4 linked regions of the Homo sapiens genome follow. The protein of the gene in region 3 purifies or fractionates together with the protein of the main gene of each other region. This does not show direct contact. Each region holds a gene or a part of one and is shown on either strand. Other genes may lie near its edges.

Region 1 (4,002 bases), on a different chromosome or scaffold from region 3:
TGTTAAAATCCCAATAGGACTGAATATAACCATGCCCATGGTACATAAACTGTTTAAAAATCTTCCAAACTTATGGAATTAAAAAAAGTATTCCAACCCAAATTCTTATATATTGCATATTATCCTTTTAATGATATCTTTTAAAATCTCAAGACACTGAAAAATCAAAACTTTGACAAAATTTGTAACTATAAAAAACAGAAACTTGTATTCACAAAGTGCCAGATTGTAGATGCTTTTAAAAGTATATATACACTAAATCAAATTACTATTTCTTTTCATATTGAGATCTTTTAATGAAAATTATTTCATGGTTTATCAGTTTATATCACATATAAAGATGATTTGGAGTTGGAGTGCTATCTACTTGCAATTCACAAAAGTTGAACAATATTCTTTATATTTAATTTCTCTTCAGTTATATGAACATTGTGACAGACTATATTACTCATAAATTTCTTATAGAAGTCATAACAGGAAACCAGAATAAAAGAACATATTTGCTTATAAAATGCTTAGTTTTCCAAACTACAGGACAAAGGTATGACATTTTCTTTCTTATGTGCCTTTTACACGCATATTAAGAATCATTGTTACATATTATTCATATTGAAGGCTTTAAAAAGAGCCAAGGTGAAAGGTATATTATACAAATAGTTAAGAAAAATTAATAATCAGCAATGAGGTCAAAGGCTACATATAACCTTATCTGCACAGAACCATCACTTTTGTTTCTAACCCTATAATCATCAGTGGAGAGATTTAACTCAATTTCCAGACCCCAGGGCCACAGCCAAGAACCTCAGGAATGTTTCCAATGATGAGAGACAACAATTATTCTGGCATCCAAAGAAGCTCTATAATTTCCCATATTGACCAAGTCCTTGTCTTTGGAAATATACTCACCATTAAAACAAAAATGTATGCCAGACAAGTCAAGTTTTTAGTTACGTAAAATGCAGTATAATACCTGTGCAATGTTCATGTAAATTGCCTGAAGTAATGTCACAGACACATAGTGGGGCTTATCACGTGTTCTCTGGTAGAAGCAATATGCAACTAAACCATATTAAATACTAGATCATATGTTAAAATATGTTCTGAAAACTTTTAATCATGTAATACTGACTTTCTATGCTACTTAAACTCTGTTCTGTAATTAAACATTTAAATGATTTTAAGCTAACTCTGAATTTAACTTACAAGTAAAATTAGAGCCGTCAAGGGAGGTAATTCATTTCCTTATTTGACTTTTCAATTTATATGTGTTGTGCTTAATTTCCACTGACTTGTAAACATAGGACACACCGGAACCAATCTGAAGAGTTTGTTGACTCTGAGGCAAAACCGATCTTTGCAAAACGTGGAGTCTATAATGGAAAAAAATTTAAGTTAATCATAACTGTATAGAGTATCATAAAATTCTACACATAGACTAGTCTATTATTTGAAAAGCTCATCTGAAATTTTAAAAATACAGAAAAATTGACCCTTTTCATATGTTTCCCCAAATCTGTTATTAGAAGATTAAAATACTGTTTTTAAACATGTGTGTCTCATTATAAAAAGAATTTCACTAAACAGTACTGAAGGAATTTCTACCATCAAGCAATAAAAAACCAAATAATAACAAATATAAAACTTTTCAGAAGGATATCTGGAATTTTAATGATTTGGCTGTATAATGATCAGAGGGGAAAAAGTCAGCAGACTAAAGCTATGAAATTAGTGTCTGAGTTGTTTTTTAGGCTATATTATCTATCAAAATCACTATATATTCATATGTAATAATATCCACTATAAAAAGCCCAAATAAAACTCTTGCCACAAAAAGATACCTCTTAGCTATATAAGTGTCTATAATAAAATCAAAGCACATATCATAGTGGTTAGCACAAAATATTTACAGTAAGATTAATCATTGTCACTCACTGACAGTGGGCTAGGAATATATAAATTGAACCCAAATATGTAGGTACAAGGCAGGGTGCATTTTTTTTATGGTTTGGTTTATAAACCTTCAGAGAATACCGTGGTGTTCACCCACGAATCAAGAACTGTTTTGCCATGCACAGTCTAATCCTTTCCCTGAAGTAAACCAGGGACCAGAAAGAATTATATACTTGAACCATAACATCAATTTATTTTATTAAACCATATTCTGGTACTGGACTTTAAAAGCACAAACTGCTTTTAGGGCACTTACATAAAACAGTCTGATTAACCTCCTATTCAGGAAGCTTTTGCTTGTAACATTACAGTTTCTTCTTTTTGAGTTTGCAATACATAACTTTCTGATACCTGTATTAGTAATAATTGTATATAATCTGAGTAGATGGTTTTCATGAGCAGTAATTTTTTTTTTTTTTTTGAGAAAGGGTCTTCCACTGTCACCCAGGCTGGAGTGCAGTGGCATGATCTCAGCTCACTGCAGCCTCAACCTCCTGGGCTCAGGTGATCCTCCCACCAGGTGTGCATCACCACACCCAGCTAATTTTTGTAGGTTTTCTAGAGACAGGGTTTCACCATGTTGCCCAGACTGATCTCGAACTCCTGAACTCAAGCAATCCTCCCACTTTGGCCTCCCAAAGTGCTGGGATTAGAGGCATGAACCACCATACTGGCCCAGTAAATCTTTCATCTTTTCTTCCGCTTTATATTGCTTGCTACCATGCTTAACATCAACTTCATTAAAAGTAGATTGTAAGGAAACATTATGTTACCTTCACCTTATGTTTTGCAATCTTACTTTTCCTATATGTTAGTTCCCCTCTACCCTCTTGTTTTTAAATTTTACTTCACTTCCCTTTTTCAAGACTTTGGGGTAGATATATATAGATATAGATATAGATATAGATATAGATATAGATATATTTTAAAGAAAATTATGACAGTTCAATTTGTAAATTCTGTATCAATATTATTTCCCACAAACATGTTCCTTAGACTAGCAGAAGGCAGTTAAGTGCTATAATATATATTATTTCTAAAGAACAATAAAGATATATTCTATTTTAAGCTACATACTAAATTTTATTTTGTAACATTTAACCACAAATTGATTTTAGGGGCTCAACATTTTTTAACCAACCAAATGAGGAAAAGACATCCTCATTTCTTTTTTGAGAACGTCTGCTGCAATGGCCACTCGGGAATATACATAGAAGGCATATATATGGACTTCACCAAAGCATTACACATGGTTCATTTAAAATTTTTTTAATTCACGGAGAAATGGAAAAAAAAGATTTGAGGATATTGTTGAATGATCATAAAAATGGTTCTGTTGAATAGAGGGAAATTTCTGGTAGTGCACTCCAAGGCTTTTGGTCTTGACACTCTTCTCTTTCATGTGTTTAACAATTATTTGGATTAAGCATTGAGAGGGATATTGGATAATTAGCAGTTAATAGGACTGACTTTAGAGTGAGAAAAATCTGCAGATGTGCAAGTCCTTTATATAAAATGGTGTAGTATTTGCATATAACCTGTGCACATCCTCCTGTATACCTTAATCTCTGAATAACTTATAATACATAATACAATGCAAATGCTAGGTACAGAGCTGTTGTACTAATTTGCTTTTTTGTTTGTGGTATTTTTACTGTTCCATTATTTTCGTGTTTTTGTTTGTTTTTCAGACAGGCTCCCACTCTGTTGCCCAGGCAGGAGTGCAGTGGCACAATCTTGGCTCACTACAGCCTTGACTTCCTAGGCTCAAGCAATCCTCCCACCTCAGCCTCCCAAGTAGCTGGGACTAAAGGCACGCACCACCACACCCAGCTAATTTTAGTATTTTTAGTAGAGAGGGGGTTTCGCCATGTTGCCCAGGCTGGTCTCCAACTCCTGGGCTCAAGCAGTCTTCCTGCCTTGGCCTTCAAAAAGTGCTTGGATTGCAGGTATGAGCCACTGTGCCCAACTAAAATTTTAAAATATTTTCAATCTGTAATTAGTTGAATCTGAGAATGGGAAATTCACAGATATGGAGAACTAACTGTGTAT
Region 2 (4,002 bases), on a different chromosome or scaffold from region 3:
TTCAGGGGGCTGAGGCAGGAGAAGCCCTTGAACCCGGGAGACAGAGGTTGCAGTGAGCTGACAGAGCAAGACTCCATCTCAAAAAAAAAAAAAAAAAGAGATGGGTTGGGGGTAAGAGAAGAAGTAATCTCAGTTTAGCTTATCACATTCTGTTCTAATCATTTTGACTACAGTTTACCAGAGACTTCAAAATTTGATTACTGGCCAGGCACGGTGGCTCAGGTCTGTAACCCCAGCACTTTGGGAGGCTGAGGAGGGCGGATCACGAGGTCAGGAGATTGAGACCATCCTGGCTAACATGGTGAAACCCCATCTCTACTAAAAATACAAAAAAATTAGCCAGGCGTGGTGGCGGGCACCTGTAGTCCCAGCTACTCGGGAGGCTGAGGCAGGAGAATGGCGTGAACCCGGGAGGCAGAGCTTGCAGTGAGCCGAGATCACACCACTGCACTCCAGCCTGGGCTACAGAGCGAGACTCTGTCTCAAAAAAAAAAATTTGATTACTGCTCCCCTCCCAAAGATAAAAATCTAGCATAGAATTAATTCATGCCAAAGATGTCACTAACTGGCATTCTTTTAAAAAACCTCAGTATCTGACCCTCAACAGCTTGTGACACTGGATATCTAGCTTCTGTGTGTACCAGTTCCTCATCTGTAAAATGGGGTTAAAATAATAAACTATATACTTACTTCATGGGTGTGGTGAAGAATACATGAGATTATGAGCTTGAAACATGATAGGTACTCAATAAATATTTGTTGAGTGAATGAGTAAATAAACTAATGTATGAAAAATGCTTAGGATAGTGCCTGTCACATAGCCAATGGCTAATAATATCAGTATCACGCCAGACGCGGTGGCTCATGCCTGTAATCCCAACACTTTGGGAAGCCAAGGCAGGCGGATTACTTGAGGTCAGGAGTTCGAGACCAGCCTGGCCAACATGGTGAAACCCCTGTCTCTACTAAAAATACAAAAATGAGCTGGGCATGGTGGCATGCGCCTGTAGTTCCAGCTACTCGGGAGGCTGAGACAGAAGAATCGCTTGAACCCAAGAGGTGGAGGTTGCAGTGAGCCAAGATCACGCCACTGCACTCCAGCATGGGCAACAAGGGTAAAATTCCGTCTCAAAAAACAAAAACAAAAACAAACCAATTACTACATTACCCTGTAATATTCTGATGTAGTTTCATCAGAAAAGCCAAAATAATCACTGATTTAAAATACACAGTAGGTACCTCCTAAAAACTAATTTAAATTTACCACTTAATTTGAAATATGTACTGAGTTAAATCAACTAAGTTGCTACTAATTTAAATTTGCATTTAAATTGGCTTATAGAACATTCTTCTGCCTTTAACACAAGAGGAAGAGTAACTACTGAGAGAGCTTACCCATCAGACAAAGCAGCTTTAAGCAGATTTAATTGGCTCAAGATTTGCTTTGTTGACATCAAAATAAAATGTTAGTCAACAGAAAATTCAAATAAAGTACTACCTAGTGTCTTGTTTCTGTTAGTAATTCCAATCTGAGAACATTAAACAAGCACTGATAAAGCATTTTTTCTAAGAAGGAACTCTGCATAGTTAATTCTACACCAGTGACAAGTTCCAAAGGAGAATCTGCTTTGTGGCATTAGGACTGGACTCCTGTACTTTCACACCCTAATAGTCTCTATATCGCCGGAAGCAGTTGGTGCACTCCCGGCCTTTAGATTAGAGAAAATACTAAGCAGGATTCTAATAAAAAGAATCCAAGTTAATAAGCTTAAGAAATTAAAATTGCTACCTATACATAAATATCATTGGTCATCAAAAACTCTACTAAAGACCTACTATGTGCCAGTGAAAATAACTGAGGAGGGCATTAGCTAAAACAGCTTCTGATCGAGAAGCTTCCAGTCAAATTAGCTAATTAAGATATTAATAGAAGCTGGTCAAGTTAACCAAAAATATGAGGGGTACTGGCATAACAAGCTACAAGATTTCTGAGAAAATAAGAAGCTTTTGATACAACTAGGTAAAATAAGATATGTGATAGTGTGATTTTCCATGAACACAAGGTGGTACTGGCAATAAATGCTATAAAATTTTAGAGAAGAAAGATTAACTGTTGCAAAACCATGATAGACTTCAAAGAGGGAGAACTGAGCTCAGTCTTGAGGGGTGGAAAAGATTTAAATAGTTAAACAGCATAAGAGGAAAGGACAAAAGATAATGGGACCAAAGGTGCTGAATTGGGAATATGGCCATTAAATATTTATTAAATACCTACTCTATGTCAGTCACTGTGTTAGGCACTAGAGATACACTGGAGAACAAAACAGATGAGTTCTCTGCTTTCATGGAATCTAGCAGGGAAGACATAATAATCATGCACGCAGATATATAATCATAAATTGCAATAGGTGCTATGAAAGGAGGCAACAGAAGCCAGTAATAGGGAATAATGGGAAAGGACTAGCAAGACACGATGATGAGAAAAAGTATCCCTGATATTTATACATAAGCTCAGGCATGAAGGCAGCCATGCAAAGAGCAGGGAAAAGAAGTGTTCGAGGAAGACAGAGCCATGCATACAAAGGCCCTGAGGTAGGAAACAGCTCACTGAGTTTAAAAATAAATAAGGCCAGTGGCTCATGCCTGTAATCTCAGCTACTCTGGAGGCCAAAGGACAGCTTGAGGCCAGGAGTTTGAGACCAGCCTGAGCAATATTGTAAGACCCCATCTCTAAAAATTAAATAAAATAAGAATAAAAATAAGAAGTTAGCGTAACAGAGGCATAATGGGCAATGAGATTGGCATAAAATGCCAATTGCCTACCCGAAAAGTAGCCAGGAGACGGGCTATACAGGGCATTATAGGTCAAAATAAAGAACTGAAATGGCCAGGCACAGTGGCTCACGCCTGTAATCCCAGCACCTTGGGAGGCTGAGGTGAGTGGATCAAGAGGTCAGGAGTTCATGGCCAGCCTGGCCAACATAACATGGTGAAACTCCGTCTCTACTAAAAACACGAAAATTAGCCAGGCGTGGTGGTAGGCACCTTTAATCCCAGCTACTTGGGAGGCTGAGGCGGAGAACGGCTTGAACCCAGGAGGTGGAGGTTGCAGTGAGCTGAGATCGCGCCACTGCACTCCAGCCTGGGCGACAGAACGAGACTGTCTCAAAAAAAAAAAAAAAAAAAAAAAAAAGCTGAAATTTGAATTTTATTCCAAATCTAAAAACCACTAAAAATTTTTGCACGGTCACATTAGTGTTAAATAAAAGGAGCCAGACCACAAACAATATATACTATATGATTCAATTTTTACAAAAGTACAAAAAAAGAGCAAAATAATCTATGCTGTCAGAAGTCAGGATGGTGATTACCCTGGGTGGTAGAGGGGAGACAGGAACTGAAAGGGAACTGGATAGGGGCTTCTAGGTACTGGTAACGCTGTTTCTTGATCTAGATCTAGGTGCTGCTTACATGGGTATATTCAGTTTGTGGGAAAAAAACATCAAATTCCACTTTTACATGCATTTTTCTGTATATGTATTATATACTTCAATCATAAAGTTTTTAATAACGTAATATACTTTTATTTTTTTTTTTTTTGAGACGGAGTCTCGCTCTGTTGCCCAGGCTGGAGTGCAGTGGCGTGATCTCGGCTCACTGCAAGCTCTGCCTCCTGGGTTCTCGCCATTCTCCTGCCTCAGCCTCCCGAGTAGCTGGGACTACAGGTGCCTGCCACCATGCCTGGCTAATTTTTTGTATTTTTAGTAGCCACGGGGTTTCACCATGTTAGCCCAGCCCATAATACATTTTTAAAATACTATTTTGTCCAGATAAAAACAGGAATAGAGTGCTCACTTCCACAACACAAATACTAAAATTGGAATGGTACAGGGAAGATTAGTATGTGCCCTGCACAAGGATGACATGCTAATTCATAAAGCAGTCCATATTTTTAAATTTTTTTGTAAAAATAAAGAAACAAACGGTATAAAGGGGCACATG
Region 3 (3,807 bases):
AAAAAGTGCTATTTATTTATTTATTTATTTATTTATTTATTTGGAGAGAGACAGTCTTGCTCTGTTGCCCAGGCTGGAGTGCAGTGGAACAACCTTGGCTCACCGCAACCTCCGCCTCCTGGGTTCAAGCGATTCTCCTGCCTCAGCCTCCCAAGTAGGTGGGACTAGAGGCACACACCACCACGCCCAGCTAATTTTTGTATTTTTAGTAGAGACAGGGTTTCGCCATGTCAGCCAAGCTGGTCTTGAACTCCTGACATCAGGTGATCTGCCCAACTCGGCCTCCCAAAGTGCTGGAATTATAGGCTTGGGCCACCACACCTGGCCTATTTATTTATTTTTGAGACAGGGTTTTGCTCTGTCGGCCAGGCTAGAGTGCAGTGGTACAATCTCGGCTCACTGGAACCTCCACTTCCTGGGCTCAAGCAATCCTCCCACCTCAGCCTCCCAAGTAGCTGGCACAAGTGTGCGCCACCATGTCCAGCTAATTTTTGTATTTTTTTTGTAGATACGGGGTTTCACTATGTTGCCCAGGCTGGACTCAAACTCCTGAGCACAAGCAATCTGCCTGCCTCGGCCTCCCAAAGTGCGTGAGCCACTGTGCCCAGCCAAAAAGTGCTTTTTTAAGTGGGAAAGGAACAAGGAAGACGTTAAGCAATGGGATAAAAATAGAGATTAAAAAAGGAAAAACCTCAAGGAGTTCTATTTTTTAACTTTTTTTTTTTTTACAATTTTTCTCCTCCTACCCCCCCACTGAGAAGTTTTTTTTTTTTTTTTTGAGACAGATTCGAGATGGAGTCTCACTCTCTTGCCCAGGCTGGAGTGTAGTGGCGCAATCTTGGCTCACTACAACCTCCACCTCGCGGGTTCAAGCAATTCTCCTGCCTCAGCTACTAGAATAGCTGGGATTACAGGCATGAGCCACCATGCCCAGCTAGTTTTTGTATTTTTGGTAAAGACAGGGTTTCACCATATTGGCCAGGCTGGTCTTGAACTCCTGACCTCAAGTGATCCACCGGCCTTGGCCTCCCAAAGTGCTAGGATTACAGGCATGAGCCACTGCGCCCGGCCCGGAGTTATAGTTTTAAGTAAGCATTGAGCAAAGCTTTAAGTAAAGGCTCAGTGTCCTGACCTGAAAGCTGTAGTTGGTATCATGGTTCATGGCACCCATGTATGCCACAACTTGCAGTGGGTTGTCAAATGTACTTTGAATAAAAGGCTTTGGTTTCTCTGATGTCTTCCAATCAATCACACAGAGCTTGCCCCTAAAGAGAAACCACAGGAAGACTTTGTAGGTAATAGATCACAATGAAAATCTCTACTAGGTTAACAGTTCTCTTATGTATAGTTTGTTACTTGTCAGCCAATGACCATTGCTCTTATTCACCATTTTTTTCCTTTTTTAAAAAAGAGATGGGGTTTCATATGTTGCCCAGGCTAAACGCATACTCCTGGGCTCAAGTGATCCTCCCACCTCAGCCTCCCAAGTAGCTGGGACTATAAGTGCACCCCCCCACTTTTTCTCCCTCTTTTTTTGCATCAAATAACCAGTGGATTCCTCCCCCCATCCCCTATCCTGGTCGGGTTTATACTTGCCAAATGCAAATATCAAAAGGATACAGAGAGTGGACCAGTAACTGGTGACTCTCAAAGGACTCTATCGGTTCAATCTGTCTTTCATGACTTCAATTTCAAAATCAGCAGTTTATAGGGAGATTTTGTACAAAGCATGTATATTACTTACATGTCACTATAGCTCTAGACAGTTACACCTCATGCAAACTCAGTCTAGAGCAGCACTGGCTAAAAGAAGTAAAATGTGAGCCATGTGTCATTTTAAATTTTCTAGTAGCCACATCGGAAAAGAAAAAAAAAATACAGCTGAAATTTTAACATTTTACTTAACCCAACATATCCAAAATATCATTTCAACATGTAATCAACTAACAAATGATTAATGGGATATTTTACGTCTTTTTTTTATTATAGGGATATTTTACATTCTTTTTTGTACAAAGTCATTGAAATGTAGTTTGTATATTGCTATAGCACACCTTAGTTTGGCCTGACCACATTCAAATGCTCAATAGCTATAGGGGTTAGTGGCTACTCTACTGGACAGTTTAGGTTTAGAGATAATTTTATTGTCTTCAGAATTGTTTTGTAATATTGCCAAGTTTGACAATCTGTGTAGTTGAGAAAAGGGCCCCAGTAACTCTAGGATGCCATTCCTGGTTCTTCTTTTTTTTTTTTTTTTTTTAGATGGAGTCTCACTCAGGCTGGAGTGCAGTGGTGTAATCTCGGCTTACCACAACCTCCGCCTCCTGGGTTCAAGCTATTCTTCTGCCTCAGCCCCCTGAGTAGCTGGCATTACATGTGTGCGCCACCTCGCCCAGCTAATTTTTGTATTTTTAGTAGAGATGGGGTTTCGCCCTATTGGCCAGGCTGGTTTCAACTCCTAACCTCAAGTGATCCACCCGCCTTGGCCTCCCAAACTGCTGGGATTACAGGTGTGAGCCACCATGTTATATTTCTGCCACAGAACACTGTTTGCAGCAATGTACTGTAATTGTAGAACTTAATAAATGTAAAAAAAAAAACCTTAATAGCATTCTGAAAACTATAAAATATTGATGAAAGAAACTGAAAATGATACAAATAAATGGTAAGATATCCTCTGTTTATGGACTGGAAGAATATTGTTAAAATGTCCATACTATCCAAAGCAATCTATAGGTTCCACGCAATCTTTATCATAATTCCAATGGCAGGCCAGGTGTGATGGCTCACACCTGTAATCTCCAGCACTTTGGGAGGCCAAGGCAGGTGGACTGCTTGAGCTCAGGAGCCCGAGACCAGCCTGGGCAACATGGTGAAACCCTGTCTCTATAAAAAATACCAAAAAATCAGCCAGGTGTTGTGGCTGGAGCCTGTTGTCCCAGCTACTCAGGAGGCTGAGCCCAGGAGGTGGAGTTTGCAGTGAGCCGAGATTGCACCACTGCACAACAGCGTGGGTAACAAAGCCAGACCCTGTCTCAGGAAAAAAGAAAAAAAAAAAATTCTGCCGGGCACGGTGGCTTACACCTGTAATCCCAGCACTTTGGGAGGCCAAGGTGGGCAGATCACCTGAGGTCAGGAGCTCCAGACCAGCCTGGCCAACATGGTGAAACCTCGTCTCTACTAAAAATACAAAAATTAGCCAGGCGTGGTGATGTGCCCCTGTAATCCCAGCTACTCGGGAGGCTGAGGCAGGAGAATTACTTGAACCTGGGAGGCAGAAGTTGCAGTGAGCTGAGACTGTGCCATTGCACTGCAGCCTGGGCGACAAGGGTGAAACTCTGTCTCAAAAAGAAAAAAAAATTCCAACATCATTTTTCACAGAAATAGAAAAAAAAAAATCCTAAAATTAACACGGAACCACAAAAGACTCCGAATAGCCAAAGCAATCTTGAGTGAAAAGAATGAAGTCGGAGGCATCACACTGCCTGATTTCAAAGTACAGTCATGTGTAGCTTAATGACAGGGATATGTCCTGAGAAATGCATGGTTAGGCAATTTTGTCATTGTGCAAACATAGAGTATATTACACAAACCTAGGTAGGATAGCCTACTACACACCCAGACCTTTGCTCCTAGGCTACAAACCTGTACAGCATGTTACTGTACTGAATACTGCTGGCAACTATAACACAATGGTAAGCATTAGTGCATCTAAACACAGAAAAGGTACAGTAAAAATGTGGTATAAAAGATAAAAAACAGTATACTTGTATAGGGCACCTACCACGAATGCAGCTTGCAGGACTA
Region 4 (4,002 bases), on a different chromosome or scaffold from region 3:
CGCCACAGGAGCAGACCCCTTGGCTCACCTGAAGCTGCATTTGGGAGCATGACGGAAATCATCCGGGAGACAAAGCAAATGAGTTATGAGATGCTGAGGCCACAGGCTGGGCCAGGGCACCAGGCCTCTGGCAGGGGGAGGGCGGGAAGGGGTGGGTAGGCAGTTTTGGTCCCAAGATAAAGTGCACAAGAATAAGACCTTATGATAGGTAGGAGCAGGGTGAGCTTGAAGTGAGCTTTTCAAAAGACGACCCAGACATGCCAGCACCTAGTTCAGGCCTAGAGACCAGCACAGCGCAGCAGTCACTGGCATATTCACATTATGGTGGGATTGGCTCAAAAAGGCCTGCCCCTCCAACACCATGGCACCCCCACACTCCCGCTGTTTTGTCCTCCAGGCTTGTCTAACCCTTCTCCCCCTCCTCACGGGCAGCAGGTGGGCTGCTCCTCAGGAGAGTGGCAGGCCCCTCAGGGCAATGTGCTGCAGAGCCAGCTGGTGGGCACCAGCGGCTGGCAGAGAGGCAACGGCCATGCCCATGGAAGGCCCACCTCAGCACACTTCCCCTACCCTAAGATGCCACCCTGCAGCGGCCTCTTCCTACACATGAATGTTCACCTCTGGCCTAAGTCTCCCCTGAGGTGGAGACCCCGGGGGAGGGAGGCCTGGGGCTGCAGGTGGAGGCTTCCATTCTAGGTGGGGTCAGGAGGGGGCTGCACTGAGGCTGGTGCTTCCCCCTGGTTTGGGCCTTTCAGATGAGGGGTCACCCTGCTCACACCCACCCCAGGCTCTGCTTCCCTTTGTACAGCTTGCTCTTCCTTCCTGGTCTGCAAATGGGAGGGAGATGGGAGCCAGCAGCAAGGGGCCTCTGAGGCTGCCAGAGTGAGAGGCGACACATGGGTATGGCCCCACCATCAGGCCCAGGCATCTATGTTACCTCCTCCTCCAGAACTGTAAAGTGTTTGGCAAAGGTCAACTGCTCCCGGGATATGGAGTCACATACACAAGGCAAGGCCTTCTGCTGAGGCCAACTGCAGGTCCAAAGGGGCCTGCCCCCTTCCCAGTCCAGAGTCCACACTGGGGACATGCCCAGGATGACCAGCATCTGAGCAGGACAAGCAAAGACGAGGTCTTGCTGGAGGAGCCAGTGGGAACCCCTTGATCCAGTCTTCTGGTTTCAGACAGGGAGTGGAGGCTGAGAGAAGGGAATGAATTTGTCTGACATCTCACTGCCATTTAGTGACAGAGCCAGGGCCCACTGCTCCTAGGTTGATGCTGCTTCTCTGATAGGTGTCTAAGGAGCTGGCCTAGGCATTCTCAGGCATGAGACCTTCCTGCTTAGAAAGGGATGGGATGGGGCAGGCAGCCTTGGTGGCTGGAGAAGCTCCGCAGAAGGCAGCCAGCCCAGTCTAGCCCCACTCTCAGCCCCAGAACCCAGCATCCAGCCTGGGGCCTGGAAGGAGGATCTTCCCGAAGAGGCCAAGTGCAGGTCCATGGTTCCTGCCAAGCACCATTCCTTCTCGGGGTTTCCTGCCTGGAGCTGGGGTCACTTCAGGGGCCCTGAATCAGTTAGAGCTCCACGAAGGGGGACCCTAGCTCCAGGGTCACTGGACTTCACTCAGAGGGACTGGTTCTGCAGCTCTGGAATGGATGTGGGCTGGCTACATTCAGAGCCAGCTGCCCACAGAATCTTGCAGAGGCCTCCAGTGCTCCCTGATTCCCTGGGCCACTGCCTGAGGACCCTAGTCATGGCTAGTTCATCCTGTGGGGTGCAGACCACCTTCTCTCCCCTCCCCATGCCAGCCCAGGGAGCCATCTGGGCTGGCCATTGTAATATCCTAAATTTACCAGCCTGGCCACCAAACCAGCCCAACTCCAGGCCTAATCTGGCTCGCCTCCACCTGTCCTCCTGCCACTTCTGGTCAGCTGAAACTAAGGCTCAGATTTGATTCTGATAAAAAATAAAAATAAAAAAGGAACCAAAGTATAAAAGGATTCTACTTCTACCCCATGGGCACTCTACAATTTTTCAGCTTCACACATAATTGTGCTGAGTGGAGTTTTGACAACCCCACATAAGGCCCAGAAATGCACTTGATTATTTTTTTGTACGAAATGTGTTAGAACTCCTCTTGCCTATGTTAAAATGTGAATGGGTCAGTCTCCCTCCACTGTAGGTTGAGCACTCTCCCAGGGGGCCCAGGACTGCTGGGGTTGGCGTGCTGCTCCCTGCAGGTGCAGCCGTGAGTCTACGGCCCTGCCCCTCAGCTCCCCGGCTGCACAGTGCTCCGTCCCCAGGCCGCTGACCACACTCACAACCCCTTGTTGTACACCACTGTCCGGCTGCTCGTGGCCTGGGCTATCTCCGGCTCTAATTGGGATGTTTCAATCTGTGGAGAGAGAACAGAGAGGAAAAGTGGGGGAGTGGGAAGGGGCAAATAGTGGGGCTGGGAGCTGCAGTGAGGACCACCCTGGGCCCCAGAGCTCTGCCCCCTGCACCCCCGTGTCCACCCCAGCCAGGGCTCACATGCCCTACCTAGTGACACATCTTCCTTCTCCACCGCCCTCCCGCCGCGGGGCTCACAGCATCCCTTCCAGCCCAGACCAGATCTCTTTCTTCTGATGGTGTGTCCACGTGGGTGGACATCCTACACACTGGCCTCTGAGTTCTGCATCTCCCTCACCCCCAAGAACCATGTCCACTGCACTGCAGACCTACCACAGCCCTGCCCAGGGCCATTCCCTGGACCTGATGACCACCCAGGGCTGCTCCACCTCAACTCCTTCCATCCAAACCCCACCCTCCTGGGCTCCTCAGTCGCCTGTCCTTCCAGCACCCCACTCACTCCTGCTTCTCTGTTTCCAGTCCCCTAGACCTAAGCGCCCACACTCCACACTCCGACCACTCAGTCTTTACATCTTCCCCTGCAGTCCCGATTCCAGGGGCCATCCCTTCAGCTACTCCCTAGCCCAAGGGTCCCTCCCACGCTGCTGGCAGAAGCCCTGCTTCGGAGAACCCCACCATGCACCCCACTCCTACTTGAACCTGACCATGTAATGGAGACCCTCAAAATTCCCTGTCCTTGACTTTGGCTGGACCCCCAACCACTGCAGACAACCACCCCACCCCTGCCCCCATAGCCAGGTCAGCTCCCTCGCCCACTCTCCAGAGGCCACTGGATACCTGCTCTGCTCTCCTCTCCTTGGCCACCCACCCCCTGCTCCCACGCATCCTGGGCAGGTGACACTTCCTCTTATTTAGGGAAAAAGCTGAAGGTGTCAGAGGCGAAACCCTCAGCTTCCCATCATCAAACCCGCTGCCTTCCGTGTCCATGCATGGCTTTCCACCTGCCCTCCTCCCACCCCACAGCTGCCATCCCTCCCCTCGCAGGACAGGACCCCACCTGGCTCCACCTCCCCTGCCCACTCCGGGGCCCCCTCCTGGGTCATCCTCCCTCTCTCCCACCTTTGCCCGTTAGTGTTCCACATGCAGGAACCTTCTCTGATGACACCTCCCCTTCATCCCAAGGCAGGCCCAGCTACTACCTGGTCTCTCTCCTCCCCAGCAGCCACGTTTCTTTAAAAAACTTGGTCTACACTGGCTGTGTCCACCTCCTTCCCTCCCACTGACTTTTCAACCCACAGTAAATCTGGCTTCTGTTCTCACCACACTCCAGAAAAATCTTTCTCTCCAAGGTCACTGCCACCCCCCACTTCACGACACCCACTGCATGCTCCTCGGGGTCCTTGGGGCTTGGTCTGGCTGGGCCCTCTTCTCTGCACATGCCCTGGGTTACCCCCACACAAGATTTCTGCAGCCTTGTTTCTCCCTGGAGCCTCAGGTTCACAGCCGCCTGCCTGCCAAACTTTGCTGTGGATGTCTCACAGGCGCCTGAACTCAACCCACCTGAAATGGAACTGAACCTGCCCTCTCCCCTGGCCCCACTCAGCTCTCCATCTCGGGAATGACGCCGCCATCCAGTGGTGCTCTGCCCAAAGACTCTG

The links. Proteins that work in one complex are often made in the same cells at the same time.
Region 1: the proteins of MGME1 (region 3) and THNSL1 purify together in Homo sapiens (affinity purification with mass spectrometry; 2 studies listed by BioGRID and IntAct, with this or other methods). This does not show direct contact.
Region 2: the proteins of MGME1 (region 3) and LUZP1 purify together in Homo sapiens (affinity purification with mass spectrometry; 2 studies listed by BioGRID and IntAct, with this or other methods). This does not show direct contact.
Region 4: the proteins of MGME1 (region 3) and SFXN5 purify together in Homo sapiens (co-immunoprecipitation; one large-scale study listed by IntAct). This does not show direct contact.

What each region holds. Positions count from the first base shown.
Region 1 is NC_000010.11:25,019,110-25,023,111, reverse strand, and holds part of THNSL1 (threonine synthase-like 1), read right to left. Parts: intron 1,371-4,002; 5' UTR 1,204-1,370; intron 1-1,203.
Region 2 is NC_000001.11:23,158,857-23,162,858, forward strand, and holds part of LUZP1 (leucine zipper protein 1), read right to left. Parts: intron 1-4,002.
Region 3 is NC_000020.11:17,985,624-17,989,430, reverse strand, and holds part of MGME1 (mitochondrial genome maintenance exonuclease 1 isoform 2 precursor), read right to left. Parts: intron 1,266-3,807; coding exon 1,133-1,265; intron 1-1,132. UniProt on the Homo sapiens protein: Metal-dependent single-stranded DNA (ssDNA) exonuclease involved in mitochondrial genome maintenance. Has preference for 5'-3' exonuclease activity but is also capable of endonuclease activity on linear substrates.
Region 4 is NC_000002.12:72,942,713-72,946,714, forward strand, and holds part of SFXN5 (sideroflexin-5), read right to left. Parts: intron 2,388-4,002; coding exon 2,310-2,387; 3' UTR 1-2,309. UniProt on the Homo sapiens protein: Mitochondrial amino-acid transporter. Transports citrate. Does not act as a serine transporter: not able to mediate transport of serine into mitochondria.